Regions from separate parts of the Homo sapiens genome. Here region 1 is linked to region 2. A link means that fine-mapping ties the variant in region 2 to the plasma level of a protein whose gene starts in the linked region. Region 2 holds a variant in brackets. A gene starts in the other region. All regions are shown on their reverse strands. Region 1 holds the start of KLRF1 (killer cell lectin like receptor F1). Region 2 overlaps CLIC4 (chloride intracellular channel 4).

What was found. PIP is the posterior inclusion probability: the model's chance that the variant is causal. Protein levels are from antibody-based Olink assays in UK Biobank. Linkage for the fine-mapping came from a reference panel and not from the study's own genotypes, which makes the PIPs less certain.
Region 1: it holds the start of KLRF1, and the variant in region 2 is fine-mapped to the plasma level of the KLRF1 protein (UK Biobank, PIP above 0.99).

What each region holds. Positions count from the first base shown.
Region 1 is chr12:9,826,180-9,829,104 of GRCh38, reverse strand. It overlaps KLRF1 (killer cell lectin like receptor F1), which reads right to left and starts at 1,624. Exons shown (of 6, transcript NM_016523.3): 1 at 1,476-1,624. The coding sequence starts at 1,560.
Region 2 is chr1:24,748,521-24,751,445 of GRCh38, reverse strand. The region is part of intron 1 of CLIC4 (chloride intracellular channel 4); the gene reads right to left. Among named protein-coding and RNA genes, the nearest start is that of CLIC4, 4.5 kb to the right of the region's middle. RefSeq lists a silencer at 1,887-1,966. The variant G/A (reference allele first, on the strand shown) is at 1,878.

The DNA of each region.
Region 1 (2,925 bases), not on the chromosome of region 2:
GATTTACAAATATGTCATCACAAAATTAAGTTAAATGAATGAACATCATAACCCCAAGGCTCACATTGTCAATCTAATTCACATAAAATACGTCTTACCTCAAGCTTTAATAAATATTAGCTAAAGGTACAAGACATAAATATTAGTATGTGTCACTTAAATATCTGGGAGCCGAAAATCTGCACATTTTTGCTTCAGAGAGACATTTATGAACAGAGTGTGGAAAAAAGTCTGCAGAGAAGTCACTACATGTTGTAGTCTTTCAGGTTTAATATCTCTAATTTCCAAAAATGAAATAAAAATTGAGTGTAGGAAGTAAAGACTTGAAAATATGGGAATCTAAAAATTCACATGGAAGAGGCAATAAATTTCTTATACATAGCACGTATGTAACTCTAAGATGAATCACTGATGGATGATACTTGTGGAAGGACTCAAGAGATAAGTAAAATTTTCATGGGTGAAGTTATTAAAAGAGAAATATTTAGAAAGCAACAGAACAGAACAGACAGTCTCTATAACTGTGATTATTTGTGTCTTTAATTTCTGCTTATCTCTTTTGCCAAATCACATTAAGGTGGCATGATGGAATTGCATTGTGTATGGAGGGTATGCTTGAAGTAGCAAATTAAAATGTTGATTGCTGGTGTATAAACTTTATTTTGAGTCAACTTGGTGAAAAGCATAAAGTTTTTGAGAAGTTGAATTAAAAATTAGTATTAAAGGCTGGGCGCGGTGGCTCATGCCTATAATCCCAACACTTTGGAAGACTCAGGTGGGTGGATCACCTGAGGTCAGGAGTTCAAGACCAGCCTGGCCAACATGGTAAAACCCCATCTCTACTAAAAACGCAAAAAATTAGCCAGGCATGGTGGCGGGCACCTATAATCTCAGCTACTCAGGAGGCTGAGGCAGGAGAATTGCTTGAACCTGGGAGGCAGAGGTTGCAGTGAGCCGAGATCATGCCATTGCACTCCAGCCTGGGCAACAACAGTGAAACTCCGTCTCAAAAAAAAAAAATAGCATTAAAACACCATATTCTATGAATGATAAGGAGGTGAATGGCAGCAAATATTCACTAATTTGAAATTATTAATTTTAATTGAGTATGCATATTTCCTCAGAGAATGTCCTTAAGAAATTATATCAGACAAAATATTACAAGTAAGTGTTAGTTCCACATTGATAAATGGGAGAGAGAGAGATTATCTCATAGTAAATTTGTAAGATTAAATGAAGGAACATAGATAAAACATTCTGTATAGTGCCGGAAACTGGTGTTTCTTAAATGGTAAGAGAGGTTGTTATTTTTAAATCATTATTAATATTGAAAGAGAGGACAGGTGAGAGAGATACAGAGACGGAGAAAGAAAAGCACCCAAATACTGAAACAGTCCAATAACACAATGGAACAGGATACGGGAAACTACCATGTTAATTCACACCAATTGAAAAAATGAAATTAAATTCCATACCTTTAAATGTAAGTTGAGATGTTTGGGCAGAACTCCTTTTCTTTGACTGTACATTCAATGTCATGTATCTTTCTTCATCTTGCATCTTCAATGTGAGTGAATGTGTGTGTATACAGGTATGTTTTGTTTTATTAAGTATAACATGAAATGAGGAAAGAATAATAAATCTGCTGCTAATCAGAGATGCTCCTCAAATTGTCCTTTCACAGTACATATGAGGGTTCACAGTTTCACTTATTTGTGAAAACCTCAGAGGAAATGTTTTCTTTTTAAAAGTTGCTTTCCCATGACATAGATAACACATAATTTCTCAACTGTCCACCACATATTGAATTGAATATTCTTTTGAGTGCTTTACAAATTTCTCTTAATTTACCCTTAAAGTCAAGGGAATGGAAATTATGCCCCTTTTTGAGGTGAGGTTAATAATATATAGCTGCCTTTTGTTATAGCCTAAATATTTATATCATTTGAATTAGCCTCCCTAACATATTGATATTTAATTTAATAATTTGCAATTGCCAAGCAATTAAATTCTTTATCCTAAAACAATATTGTTTATAAATCATGCTAATAATTTAACAGTATAATTTGATTTTTTTTAACTTTTAGGTTCAGGGCTACATGTGTAGGTTTGTTATATAGGTAAAATCATGTCACAGGGGTTTGTTGTACATATTATTTCATCACCCAGGTATTCAGACTAGTACTACATAGTTATGTTTTTCTGATCCTGCCCCTCCTCTCACCCTCCACCTTCAAGTAGGCTCCGGTGTCTGTCATTCTCCTCTATGTGTACATGTGTTCTCATCATTTAGATCCCAATTATTAGTGAGAACATGTGGTATTTGGTTTTCTGTTCCTCCATTAGTTTGTTAAGGGTAACGGCCTCTAGCTTCATCTATGTTCCTGCAATGGACATCATCTCATTCTTTTTTATAGCTGCATAGTATTCCTTTGTATATGTGTATCACATTTTCTTTATCCAGTCTACCATTGATGGGCATTTAGGTTGATTGCATGTCTTTGCTATTGTCAACAGTGCTGCCATGAACAGATGCATGCATGTGTCTTTATGATAGATTTATATTCCTTTGGGTATATACCAGTAATGGGATTGCTGGGTCAAATTTCTGGTTTTAGGTCTTTAAGGAATCACCATGCTATCTTTCATAATGGTTGAACTAATTTACACTCCCATCAAAGGTGTATAAGTGAACCCTTTTCTCCACTACCTCATCAGCATCTGTTATTTTTTGACTTTTTAATAATAGCCATTCGACTGGTATGAGATGGTATCTTACTGTGGTTTTAATTTGCATTTCCCTAATGATTAGTGCCTACTGGAGGATAGAGGGTGGGAAGAGGGAAAGGATCAGGAAAAATAACTAATGGGTACTAGGGTTAATACCTGGGTGAAGAAATAATCTTTACAGCAAACCCCCATTAC
Region 2 (2,925 bases):
AACATAGTGAAACCCCGTCTCTACTACAAATACAAATTAGCTCCTCATCTCTACTAAAAATACAAAAAATTAGCTGGCCATGGTGGCGGGTGCCTGTAACCCCAGCTACTCGGGAGTCTGCGGCAGGAGAATCGCTTGAACTCGGGAGACAGAGGTTGCAGTGAGCCAAGATCGTGCCACTGCACTCCAGCCCGGGTAACAGTGCAAGACTCCATCTCAAAAAAAAAAAAAAAAAAAAGACTGGAAGTATTAAATGGAGAAAAAAAAGAGGTGAGTACATAAAATTACACTGGGTTTGGAGACTGGAGGCTAGAGAAATCAGGATGAAGAACCATGCTTTGATGCTCCAACCATCGGGATCTCAGTAAGTGGTTTCTAATTCCAAAGCATGGTAGAGACATACATTGACAACAAAATGCTCAACAACAGAATTCTCTGAAAGAAGGGCACAATCTCATTTCAAACATTTGGCATCCTCTTAAGTTGCAGGCACTCTGAACCATATGCACACCCTATCCTCAAGGAATTTACTGTCTATCTAGTAGGGGAGATCTGCCTATAAATATATATTCATACAAAATTATACACAACTAGCATTTATTTGCTTACTGTGTACTAGACATTGTTCTAAGATTGTTGCATACTACATATATTAATTTATCCCATAGGACTGTTCTACTAATATCCCAACTGTGCAGATGTGGCACAGACAGGTTTAAGTGATGTATCCTGGGATACACAATTAGTAACTGGACATATTGGATTAGAAACTCAGGCAGTAGGCCAGGCTCGGTGGCTCACGCCTGTAATCCCAGCACTTTTGGAGGCCAAGGCAGGCTGATCACCTGAGGTCAGGAGTTCGAGACAAGCCTGACCAACATGGAGAAACCTTGTCTCTACTAAAAATACAAAATTAGCCAGGTGTGGTGGTGCACACCTGTAGTCCCAGCCACTCGGGAGGCTGAGGGGTAACAAGAGCGAAACTCCGTCTTAAAAAAAAAAAAAAAAAGAAAGAAAGAAAGAAAGAAAGAAACCCAGATTACAAGGGACCTTATGCCCTTGCTAAAAGGTCTCAAATATACCGTATCTGTTGGTGGTTCCCAGCTGGAAATATATACACCTACCAGGCTCCTGAGTGGGGTAGAGAGCATCTCCACTGTTGAGGATGATTGCCATTATAAGCCTTTGTTGTTTTCCTCCCGAGACAGGGTCTTGTTCTGTCACCCAGATTGGAGTGCAGGTACATGATCATAAGCTCACTGCAGCCTCGAACTCCTGGGCTCAAACAATCCTCCCACCCGCAGCCTCTAGGGCTAGGGCTGCAGGCGTGGGCCACCAGGCCCAGCTTAGTTACTTACTTATTTATTTAGAGATAGGGTCTCACCCAAGCTGGAGTGCAGTGGCACGATCACGGCTCACAGCCAACCTCTGCCTCCCAGGCTAAAGGAATCCTCCCACCTCAGCTGGGACCACAGGCATGTATCACCACACCCAGCTAATTTTTTATATTTTTTGTAGAGATGGGGTTTTGCTACGTTGCCCAGGCTGGTCTCGAACTCCTAGGCTCAAGAGATCCGCCTGCCTCAGCCTCCCAAAGTACTGGGATTACAGGCGTGAGCCACTGTGCCTGGCAATTTTTTTAATAGTTTTTGTAGAGACAGGGTCTCGCCATGTTGCCCAGGCTGGTCTAGAACTCCTGCGCTCAAAAGATTCATCCTCCTTGGCCTCCTACAGTGCTAGGATTACAGGCGTGAGCCACCACAGCCCAGCTGCCTTTTTTACTTTTGAGAGGGCATCCTATCTATCCTCCAGATGTTGAGGGTAAAACAAAACAAAAACAAACCAAAAAAACCATCCTGCTGTTATATAGATGACAG[G/A]GAGTTAATGGGCTCACAGGCAGACAACTCCAAAAACTACTCACAAGGAAGGAAATGCAGCTGTGAGTTCAGTCATACTATTTGAGAAGGTGCTCATCTCTCTCTCTTAAATGTGAAGCTCAGTGCTAGCTAGACAGGTAGGCTCAAAGCCCCATTACATCTCTTGGCCTTTCCCCTAGCGCCACCACCAAATTTCTAATTTCCATACATGCTATGTGCTTCAACTGTAAATAGTTTTCTTTTACAAACTCAGATACCTCTTGGCAGGTTAACACTGTTCAACATACCACTCTGGACAACCACAGCCTCTGCACCCTCTCTACTTTCTTTTTTTTTTTTTTAATTTTTATTTTTTGAGATGGAGTCTTGCTCTGTCACCCAGGCTGGGGTGCAGTGGCACTATCTCGGCTCACTGCAACCACCGCCTCCCAGGTTCAAGCAATTCTCCTGCCTCAGTCTCCCGAGTAGCTGGGATTACAGCCATGCACCACTATGCGTGGCTAATTTTTGTATTTTTAGTAGAAATGCGGTTTCGCCATGTTGCCCAGGCTGGTCTCAACATCAAGTGATCCACCCCCCTCCGCCTCCCAAAAGGCTGGGATTACAGGAGTGTGCCACCACACCTGGTCCACTGCTTTCAAAATAACTATATTTACAAGGGTATTTCCCCCATTTGCATTTCCCACACGTAGGTTTTGAGAAGAGATCAAGAATGCCCTTTACCACATTTTACCTGTCCTTTTTTCCCCTTTCAAACAAACTGGTCTAGGGGCCAAGCACAGAGGCTCAAGCCTGTAATCCCAGCACTTTGGGAGGCCAAGGCAGGCAGATCACTTAAGGTCAGGAGTTTGAGACCAGCCTGGCCAACATGGTAAAACCCAGTCTCTTCTAAAATACAAAAATCAGCCAGGCGTAGTGGTGCATGCGCTCCTCGGAAGGCAAAGGCAGAAGAATCACTTCAACCTGGGAGGCAGAGGGTGCAGTGAGCCGAGATCGCGCCACTGCACTCCAGCAGCCAGGGTGACAGAGCGAGACACCATCTCATTAA